Homo sapiens: one gene and its partners. The protein of the gene in region 3 purifies or fractionates together with the protein of the main gene of each other region. This does not show direct contact. Each region holds a gene or a part of one and is shown on either strand. Other genes may lie near its edges. The genes, in order: PDCD6, POTEF and TKT.

Region 1 (3,651 bases), on a different chromosome or scaffold from region 3:
CAGCCCCTCCCCGAGTCTTCAGCTGCACAACCATCAAACTAGAACCTCAGCTCCTCCCTGTGTCTCCAGCTCCACAACCCTCAAACTAGAACCACACCAGTTCCTCCCTGGTCTCCAGCTCTACGACCCACCAATTAAAATAACATCAGCTCCTCACAGATCTCCATCTGCATGACCCTCAAACTAGAACACCTCTCCCACCTGGATCTCCAGCTCCACGACCCTCACAGAACAGCCAAACCAGCTCCTTCACTGTCTTCAGCTCCACAACCTAAGACATCAGTGGCAGCACCAGCTCTTCCCTGGACCTCCAGCTCAACGACTCTCATAGACTTAAAAGGCAGCACCGGCTCCTCCCCAAGGCTCCATCTCCACCACCTTCAGATTTGAACAGCGATAGCACCAGCTCCTCTCCAGGTCTTCAGCCCCAAGACCCTCCCTGACCAATCCCTTCTTACGAAATTCAGCAGTCAAGAAAACTGCAGCAGAAGTAAATGAATAAATGTTTTGTTTTCAAATCGATGTCTCTTTTATGTTCATGAGTTAACTTTTCTACTTTCCATTAGCCTTGCAATCTACTTATGTCCAATGTGAAACAGAAACACACCATTTGAAATCACGTTTAAAAACTTAGTAGTATTTTTAAAGAAAATCACCACACAGCTGTAGATGCGATCTTATTTCTCTCTGCCTGTGCAGAAGTCTTATGAAAATTCGAACTATGAATTTACTTTGTTGAGATTCCCAGAATACACATTAATCCCAACTGTTACTCCCCTCCTTAAAATCTTTTAACATATTCCCATCACTTGAGCATAAATGCCAGCTCCCATCCACAGCCCAAAGTGCCCAGCACGGCCCTGCCCTCTACCCTGGTCTATGGTCTCCCCTCTTAAATGCCAGCTCCCATCCACAGCCCAAAGTGCCCAGCACGGCCCTGCCCTCTGCCCTGGTCTATGGACTCCCCTCTTAAATGCCAGCTCCCATCCACAGCCTACAGTGCCCTCACAGCCCTGCCCTCTGCCCTGGTCTATGGACTCCCCTCTTAAATGCCAGCTCCCATCCACAGCCTACAGTGCCCTCACAGCCCTGCCCTCTGCCCTGGCCTGTGGTCTCCACTCTGGTGCCTGGCCCAGCCCTCCCCACCCCTCTGCCCTGGCTTATGGTCTCCCCTCTTAAATGCCAGCTCCCATCCACAGCCCACAGTGCCCAGCACAGCCCTGCCCTCTACTTCGGTCTATGGTCTCCCCTCTTAAATTCCAGCACCATCCACAGCCCACAGTGCCCGGCACAGCCCTGCCCTCTGCCCTGGTCTATGGTCTCCCCTCTTAAATGCCAGCACCATCCACAGCCCACAGTGCCCAGCACAGCCCTGCCCTCTGCTCTGGCCTAAGGTCTCTCCCCTGTGCTGTTCCCTTCCTGCCGGACAGGCCTCTATCCGTTCCTCAAACCACACAGGCTCAGGCCTGACTCCAGGCCTTTGCCCTGCTGTGCCCTCTGCCTAGGGTGCCTTTCCCGGGCTCTGCATCCTCCTCTCAACCCGCTGAGCTCCAGCCTGCTGGTCGCCCCTCAGGTGGATGAACACATGGTGTCCTCTCGCCCCGCTGGCTTTTGCACAGGCTCTTCTCTGTGCCAGACACAAACCCTCTCTATCGGGGTTTACTCTCTAAATACCATTCGTCCTTGGAGTCTCCACTGAAATATCGCTCCCTGCCCACCCCCCTCCCTTGGACTTAACCTTGGTTAGGTTGCCAACCCCCGTCTCCTGACTCCGGGAAGCTAGATGCTCTCCTAGCACTCGGAACTTGCCCATCGCCACATTTTGCACACCCGTGATTACTGGGTTAGGTTGGCGCACAAGTCATCGCAGTTTTTGCCATTACTATTAATGAACTGCAGCACCGGCTCCTCGTTTTTTTTTTTTTTTTTTTTTTTGCCATTACTTTTAATGACTGCTGCACCAACCTATTAGAATCATTTATATTTATTCATCCATCATCTGCCTTCCCCTCTAGAAAGGAAGCTCCATGAGAATAGAGGCCAAATCTACTCAAATAACTCCACCTTCCCACACATTGTCAATAATCATTTACCAACTGACTGATAGAGAAATGCCTTCCCTGTTGCTGGGATGAGGCACATGACACGCCCCTTTGAAAGTCACTGTCATGGACAGTTGGCATTTGCTCTTCACTGCTGCACCCGTGGCGTGGCTGGGCTTAGGCTGATCTAGTCTGGCCTTGACTCTAGGCTGAGGGTGGGAACCATGCCTGCTCCACACGCCTCTCATTCCACAGCCAGAGCCGCCGTTCCCTGGGGCACGCATATCTCGTGGGGAAAATCAAGAGCCTAAGAGGGCAGGCCTGGCAGTGCCACACATTCCAGGCTTCTGCTTGTGCCGTGTCTGTGAAAATCTCGTTGGCAGAAGCAAGTCACCCAGCCACAAGCAACACCTATAAGTCCATCCACCCTCCCTCCGGCCCTGGCAAGGATGCGGCTGCGTCATACTCTTAGGGGGGAATGAAAAACTGAGGCCCAAAATTAAATCACCCATGGCAAGAAATGTCAGTCTCTGTGTCCCCACACTGGAATTCTTCTTCACCAGCGGGTTTGCCTGAGCTGACTTCCCTTTGCAATGGTGTCTGCAGGTTTAGGCCAATGCTGTTCCCCATGGAGGACAGAGAAGCCTCAACGGGCCTCTCTGTTGGGAAGAACAAGATATTAGCTTGGCGCGAAACAACCGCAAGCCACAGGTGGCCCACACCCCGTGAGACAGGAGAGGGGCAGAGAACTGTGGGAACTCAGGAAAGCTTGCATCCCTAGCCCCTCCCATGTCCCCAGCCCCTCCCGTGTCCCCAGCACCCTCCCCCGCATCCCCAGCACCCTCCTGTGTCCCCAGCACCCTCCCCTGCATCCCCAGCACCCTCCCCTGTGTCCCCAGCCCTCTCCCCTGCTTGCCCCATCTCTTTCTTTTTTTCATTTTCTTTCTTTCCTTTTGTTTTATTTGAGACAGGGTCTGGCTCTGTCACCCAGGCTGGAGTGCAATGGCACGATCTCGGTTTACTGCAACCTTCACCTCCTAGGCTGAAGCAATTCTCCCTCCTCAGCCTCCCCAGTGGCTGGGACTACAGATGCACGCCACCATACCCAGCTAAATTTTTTTTTTTTTTTTGGGAGAGACAGGATCTGCCATGTTGCCCAGGCTGGTCTCAAATTCCTGAGCTCAAGTAATCCTCCCACCTCAGCCTCCCAAAGTGCTGGGATTACAAGCATGAGCCACCGAGTCCAGCCTGCTTTATTTTTCTCTACAGTACTTGGAATCTTCTAATATACTAAGGACACGTGTATTTTCTTTCTGTCTTCCCTAGAACAGGAGCTTAATGTGGGCAGGTATTTTTGTTGATCTCATTTATCACCCTATCCCCAGTGCCTGGACAGGGTCTGGCACATGAATGGTGTGTTCTAAATAAATATTTTTAATAGATAAATAAATGAAATATCCTACAAGAGAAAGCTATATCTGGAACTCACCCACCAACAGAACCTAAAAGCCAAAGACCTTTAGCCTGTCTCTGCCTCTGAACACACCCAACCCCGGAGGAGCCAGCAGAGGAAAAAGAGGACAAAGGTGGGGAAGGGAGCAGGTGGTGC
Region 2 (3,751 bases), on a different chromosome or scaffold from region 3:
CAGTTGTCAACATGCTAAGCTGTCCACTGTACTGAAATACTGTGCTTCCTCAATTTGTTTTAAGGTGTGCACTTTTATCCAACTCTCCTCAAGTCAGAGTACAGGTAAGCCCTGGCTGCCTCCAGCCACTCTCAGGGAGACCAAAAGCCTTCATACACCCCAAGTTGGGGTACAAAAGAGGGGGGCCACGAAGGCTGATCATTCAAAATAAAACAAAATTAAAAAGTATTAAGGCGAAGATTCAAAAAATTTTGCATTATGTAATTTGCACAAAAGCAATGCTATCACCTCCCCTGTGTGAACTAGGGAGAGGACTGGGCCATTCTCCTTAGAGAGAAGTGGGGTGGCTTTTAGCAGGGCAAGGGGCTTCCTGAAACAATGCGTCTCACAATATTTGGAATGACTATTGAAAAGAAGAACAAGGTACAATCAAAGTCCTTGGCCACATTGTAGAACTTTGGAGGAAGCTTCCTCCAACCGACTGCTGTCACCTTCACCATTCCGGTTTTTAAATCCTGAGTCAAGCCAATAAAAAACAAAACAAAAAATGAAACAAGAAAACAAATAAAGCCATGCCAATCTCATGTTGTTTTCTGAGAAGTTTGGTTTTGTCAAGAAAGGGTGTAACGCAACTAAGTCAGAGTCCACCTACAAGCATTTGCGGTGGACAATGGAGGGGCCTGACTCATCATACTCCTGCTTGCTGATCCACATCTGCTGGAAGGTGGACAGCGAGGCCAGGATGGAGCCACCGACCCACACGGAGTACTTGCGCTTGGGAGGAGCAATGATCCTGATCTTCATCATGCTAGGCGCCAGGGCAGCGATCTCCTTCTGCATTCTGTGGGCCATGCCAGGGTACATGGTGGTGCCGCCAGACAGCACTGTGTTGGTGTACAGGTCTTTGCGGATGTCCACATCAGACTTCATGATGGAGTTGAAGGTAGTTTCATGGATGCCACAGGATTCCATGCCCAGGAAGCAAGGCTGGAAGAGCGCCTCGGGGCAGCGGAACCGCTCGTTGCCGATGGTGATGACCTGGCCATCGGGCAGCTCGTAGCTCTTCTCTAGGGAGGAGCTGGAGGCCACCGTGGCCATCTCCTGCTCGAAGTCCAGGGCAACATAGCACAGCTTCTCTTTGATGTCACGCACGATTTCCCGCTCGGCCATGGTGGTGAACCTATAGCCATGCTCGGTGAGGATCTTCATGAGGTAGTCAGGCAGTTCCCGCCCAGCCAGGTCTAGGCGCAGGGTGGCATGGGGGAGGGCATTCCCCTCATAGATGGGCACAGTGTGGGTGACCCCGTCACCAGAGTCCATCACGATGCCAGTAGTACGGCCAGAGGTGTACAGGGACAGCACAGCCTGGATGGCCACGTACATGGCTGGGGTGTTGAAGGTCTCAAACATGATCTGGGTCATCTTCTCGCGGTTGGCCTTAGGGTTCAGGGTGGCCTCGGTCAGCAGGACGGGGTGCTCCTCGGGAGCCACACGCAGCTCGTTGTAGAAGGTGTGGTGCCAGATCTTCTCCATGTCATCCCAGTTGGTGATGATGCCGTGTTCCATGGGGTACTTCAGGGTCAGGATGCCTCTTTTGCTCTGGGCCTCCTTGCCCACATAGGACTCTTTCTGATGCATGCCCCCCATCATGCCCTGCTGCCTGGGGCGCCCCACGATGGAAGGGAAGACAGCCCGGGGGGCATCGTCGCCCGCAAAGCCGGCCTTGCACATGCCAGAGCCGTTGTCAATGACGAGCACAGCGGTATCATCATCCATGGTGAGCTCATTCAATTGTAGAGCCTTTAAAAGATTATCATTCCTTTTTTTCACACTTTCAATATCCTCCAAATATTTCTTTTCTCTTAGCTGGCTCTGATGTTTCATTGTGTCTAGCTCCAGTCTTAGCATGGCAATTTCTTCCCGCAACGTACTATTTTCATGCAAGATGTCTTTTTCTTTCTTACAACTAAGAGAAAGCTAAGTAAACAAAGAGAACTTTTAGTTAGCACTCAATAGATTGACATATCATGATTTCTTCTGAAATTCAAAAATAACATGTATTTGTATAATGAAAGAATCCCCATAGTGGATATTTAACTGGAAAAAAATTGGACAAAACTTCAAACCTAATAAGAGTGTAAATTCCTCCAGTGATTTATTTTTCATCGTCTTTAAATAAATATTTAAACTTTTAGGAATCTGCTCCTAAATTCCTAAAAGTTTAAATATTTATTTAAAGACGATGAAAAATAAATCACTAGAGGATTTTTAAGAATCCCAGAATTAAAAAAAGCCTTTTTTCTGAGTTACAAAAAACCCAGAGGCATAAAATATAAGATTAATAATTTGACTACATTTTTAAGATTAGGTTTACACTCTGATATCTAACCTATCAACCACACCATCCTAAGAGCCTTAGCTATGCATATATTTGGACAGAAGCAATTTCTCAAAGTTCTTTAAGTTTCTTTTACTTAAGAACGTTTTACCGATATTCTACATTTCTAATATTTCTATACTCAGTTATAAGAATTACATTTATTTATAACTGTCAAATAAGCACTGTACCCTTCTACACTGTACACATCTGTATCTAGGCATTGCTCTTCTACATATAATACTGAACTCATTTAAGATCGCGATTCTTAAAAGGAGAGGTCAAAAAATATACACAGATGCAGGATTTTCCCCAGGTCTGCTGATGCTACTTCTAGTGATCCTCCACAAAACCACACTTACTTCTGTGGTGTAAATATATAAATACAAAAGAAACCTTTTGTTTCAAAATATGAATGGTAAATAAGATACAACTTATAGAGATTTTCTTAGAAATCATGAGATTATTTGCCATTGCGGTAACTTTTATTTCCTCTTTATAATGTTTGAAACAGTAGTAATGGTGAAATAGGGGAAATATACTGAACTATTTCTCCAGAAAGAAAATACTTATCAATAAATTATTACTAAATGTGTATCATGGCATGTCATTCTTTTCAAACCTCTTTACATTGAAATGAGAAACTACTTGGAGCAAACTGTTCCTCTCTGCAAAAGTAAGGATAATGGTATCCACAATGTGGCCTCTGACCCAGCTATACATTTCCTACTTTCTTATCAGTAAAAATAATCAATTGACTTCTCTATTAACATTTTTTAAAAAACTAATGTCCAAAAACGAGAAAATCTGTTTTCAGTAGCAAAACTTATTTCTGATGTGGAAAGATCATCAATTCTTATGAAAAATATCAAATACTTCTCCTTTGGATTGAGGCCATTGTGCAGGTCACTACTCAACTGTTGCAGGCAAATGAAGGTGAATTAAGAACATGGCTTTATCCTATACGTACGTATATAGATATATGACAAAGGATATATAGAATATATACACACATATATATGACTTAAAAATCCTTTATATTTCCAAAATACAGTTCTTTAAAATATACACACATATAAAAACATTTGAAAATAACTAAAGAAAATACCTCAGAATTCATTTTTTCAACCACTTCTATCTGCTTTTCTTCATGAATCAGAATCTCATCGTGTAATATTCCAGTGTTCTGTTCTTCACAAAATTGCTTCTGAGTATCATTTTGTTCGTCACTAGAAGAAATTTTAATTTTCATGAAATACTGGAGCTGTCCCTAAAATGATGTACAGGGCAAGATGGCGCCATCAGATGTCATTCACACAATGCATATCTGCACATTATTCCAAGACAAGGCAAAGGGGTCTCACATCTGTTAAC
Region 3 (3,651 bases):
TCAGTAGCCGAAGATGCACATCCCTTAACTCCCAGCAACTTCACCAGTAGGAACATACAGTGAAATGTACTCACATGTTCCACACATTCTACAGGAAACACAAACAGGCCGGGCACAGTGGCTCACACCTGTAATCCCAGCACTCTGGGAGGCTGAGGTGGGTGGATCAACTGAGGTCAGGAGTTCGAGACCAACCTGGCCAACATGGTGAAACCCTGTATCTACTACAAATACAAAAATTAGCTGGGCATGGTGGCAGGCACCCGTAATCCCAGCTACTTGGGAAGCTGAGGCAGGAGAACCACTTGAACCCAGGAGGCTGAGGTTGCAGTGAATCAAGATCGTGCCATTGTACTCTAGACTCGGTGACAGAGTGAGACTCCATCTCAGGAAAAAAACAACAACAACAACAAAAAAAAGGAAACACAAACAGGGCTGCCCCGCATTGTTTGCAATTGCAAGACCTGGAACTCACTTATATGTTTATCAATAGACGAGGTTAACTGGAATATATTAATATAATGGGATACTATACAGCAGTAAGAATGAGCGAGCTACACTTCACAAATCCGGTATCAATATTCTCTCCCAAATATAGTGTGAAAAAAGCACAGTGCAGAAGGATCTGTTTAACAAAGAAGACCATATTGATTTATGTACAAGTCTTTTTGTATATACTACAAGGAAAACAGGCCAGGTGCGGTGGCTCAAGCCTGTAATCCCAGCACTTTGGGAGGCCGAGGAGGGCAGATCACCTGAGGTCATGAGTTTGAGACCAGCTTGACCAACACGGATAAACCCCATCTCTACTAAAAATACAAAATTAGCCGGGCATGTGGCACATGCCTGTAATCCCAGCTACTCGGGAGGCTGAGACAGGAGAATCGTTTGAACCCGGGAGGCGGAGGTTGAAGTGAGCCGAGATGGCGCCATTGCACTCCAGCCTGGACAACAAGAGCAAAACTCCGTCTCAAAAAAAAAAAAAAGGAAAACAATAGAATGATAACAAACAAAAAATTCAGGGTATAGTTCTTTCTCAGGGGAAGGGAAGATGAGGATGGAGGGACCCACTGTAGTTCCAAAAATCACTGTAATGTACTAGTTCTTAATCCTGGGAGCAGCTACACACAGGTTCATTATTTATGACAAGAGTACATCATTTATCTTCTTCTTTATGCATATACTTTTTTTTTTTTAAATATTCAGGTGGCTCACGCCTATAATCCCAGCACTTTGGGAGACAGAGACAGGTGGATCACCTGAGGTCAGGAGTCTGAGACCAGCTTGGCCAACAAGGTGAAACCCCGTCTCTACTAAAAATACAATAATTAGTTGGGCATGGTGGTGGGTGCCTGTAATCCCAGCTACTTGGGAGACTGAGGCAGGAGAATCGCTTGAACCTGGGAGGCAGAGGTTGCAGTGAGCTGAGATCTCACCATTGCACTCCAGCCTGGGAGACAAGAGTGAAACTCAGCCTCAAAAAAAAAAAAAAAAAAAAATTTAGAAGAGGCCAGGGGCGGTGGCTCACCTGAGGCACCTGAGGTCAGGAGTTCAAGACCGGCCTGGCCAACATGGCAAAACCCCGCCTCTACTAAAAACACAAAAATTAGCTGGGCATGGTGGTGCGGGCCACTAGTCCCAGCTACTTTACATGGGAGGCTAAGGCAGGAGAATTGCTTGAACCTGGGAGGCAGAGGCTGCAGTGAGCCGAGATCGCACCACTGCACTCCAGCCTAGGCAACAGACTCCACCTCAAAAAAAAAAAAAAAAAAAAAAAATACTCAGGAGAGAATCCCAGGATGTCAGGGTGGAAATGAACATCAGAAGCAGTTCTTGCTCTTCCTGTGCCCTGAACTACCCGAGCTGGCTTCTGCCCGGAAAGAACCTCTGGCTCCAGACCTCAGGTTGTTTCTTCAGATCTCTGCCCCATGTCACCTCTTCCAAGAAGCCCTCCCTGACCACACTGTCTAAAATAGCTCTTCTTCCCCTCACTCATGCTTGCCACCTGACATTAGGTGGTTATTGCCTGTCTACCCTACTGCAATACAAGCTCCTTGAGGACAGAGCTTTGGGCCTTTCACTGTTGTATCCACAGGCTTGAATAGTACCAGGCACAAACTGAGTGCACAAATGAATACATGATGTATCCTAGTAACCTTGGGGCTGTAACCTCTTTGAGCCTCAGTTTCCTCACTATAAAACGGAGGTAAAAGAAGAATCTGACTAAATGATGTAGTGTGTATGTACAGAACGTGGCACCATGCATAGAAATTAGCAATTGCTCAGTAAATATTAGACTATGCTTCATTCGGAGGATGGGGCCACTAAGGTTCACAGAAAGTGACTTGCCTAAAGTCACACGGCCTGCCAGCAGCAGAGCTAGGATAAGAGCAAAATGCTAAGAAAAACTGGTGAATGGATAAACAAAATGCACTATGTCCACACAACGGAATATTCAGCCGTAAAAAGAAATGAAGGGCTGGGCGTGGTGGCTCATGCCTGTTAATTCCAGCACTTTGAGAGGCCAAGGCAGGAAGAGGACTTGAGCCCAGAATTTGAGACCAGGCTCAGCAACATACCCTGTCTCTACAAATAATTTTTAAAATTAGCTGTGTATGGTGGTGAGTGCCTCCCAGCTACTTAGGAGGCTGAGCTGGGAAGACTGCTTGATCCCGGGAGGTTGAGGCTGCAGTGTGCCATGACTGTGCCATTGCACTCCAGCTTCGGGACACAGTGGAGACCCTGCCCCCCACCCCCCAAAAAAAAGGAACAAAGTACTGATTCATGTTACAACATGGATGACCCTCTAAAAATTATGCTAAGAGGCCAGACCCAAAAGAACTCATTCTGTATAATTGCATTTATATGAAATGTCTAGAAGAGTTAAATTTAGAGACAGAAAATTAGATTAGTGGTTGCCCAGGACTGGGGGTGGAAATGGGGAGTGACAGCAAATGTCCAGAAGAGATCTTTTAGGAGATGTGGTAAATTTTTGTAGTAAATCTCTGCAAATTCATTAAAATCACTTACAATGTTATGATACGCCAATTATACCTTAATCAAGCTGCTAGAAATTTGTTTTTATTTTTATTTATTTATTTATTTGAGACAAGTTCTCACTCTGTCACCCAGGCTGGAGTGCAGTGGTACAATCTTGGCTCACTGCAACCTCCGCCTCCCGGGTTCAAGCGATTCTCATGCCTCAGCCTCCCGAGTAGCTGGGGTTACAGGTGCCTGCTACCATGCCCGACTCATTTTTTTTGTATTTTTTAGTAGAGACAGGGTTTCACCATGTTGGCTGGGCTGTCTCGAACTCCTGACCTCAAATGATCCACCCACCTTGGCCTCCCAAAGTGCTGGGATTACAGGTGTGAGCTATCACACCTGGCCTAAAAATTTGTTTTTAAAAGAAAAAGGGCCTGGAGCAGTGGCTCACGCCTGTAATCCCAACACTTTGGGAGGCCAAGGCTGGCGGGAGGATCACCTGAGGTCAGGAATTCAAGACCAGCCTGGCCAACATGGTGAAACCCCATCCCTACTGAAAATGCAAAAATTAGCTGGGCAGTGGTGGCATGCACCTGTAATCCCAGCTACTTGGGAGACTGAGGCAGAAAATCGCTTGAACCTAGGATGTGGAGGTTACAGTGAGCC

Evidence for each region.
Region 1: the proteins of TKT (region 3) and PDCD6 fractionate together in Homo sapiens (co-fractionation; one large-scale study listed by BioGRID). This does not show direct contact.
Region 2: the proteins of TKT (region 3) and POTEF purify together in Homo sapiens (affinity purification with mass spectrometry; 2 studies listed by BioGRID and IntAct, with this or other methods). This does not show direct contact.

Annotation. Positions count from the first base shown.
Region 1 is NC_000005.10:278,068-281,718, reverse strand, and holds part of PDCD6 (programmed cell death protein 6), read right to left. Parts: intron 1-3,651. UniProt on the Homo sapiens protein: Calcium sensor that plays a key role in processes such as endoplasmic reticulum (ER)-Golgi vesicular transport, endosomal biogenesis or membrane repair.
Region 2 is NC_000002.12:130,073,596-130,077,346, forward strand, and holds part of POTEF (POTE ankyrin domain family member F), read right to left. Parts: intron 3,607-3,751; coding exon 3,486-3,606; intron 1,978-3,485; coding exon 649-1,977; 3' UTR 1-648.
Region 3 is NC_000003.12:53,245,880-53,249,530, forward strand, and holds part of TKT (transketolase), read right to left. Parts: intron 1-3,651. UniProt on the Homo sapiens protein: Catalyzes the transfer of a two-carbon ketol group from a ketose donor to an aldose acceptor, via a covalent intermediate with the cofactor thiamine pyrophosphate.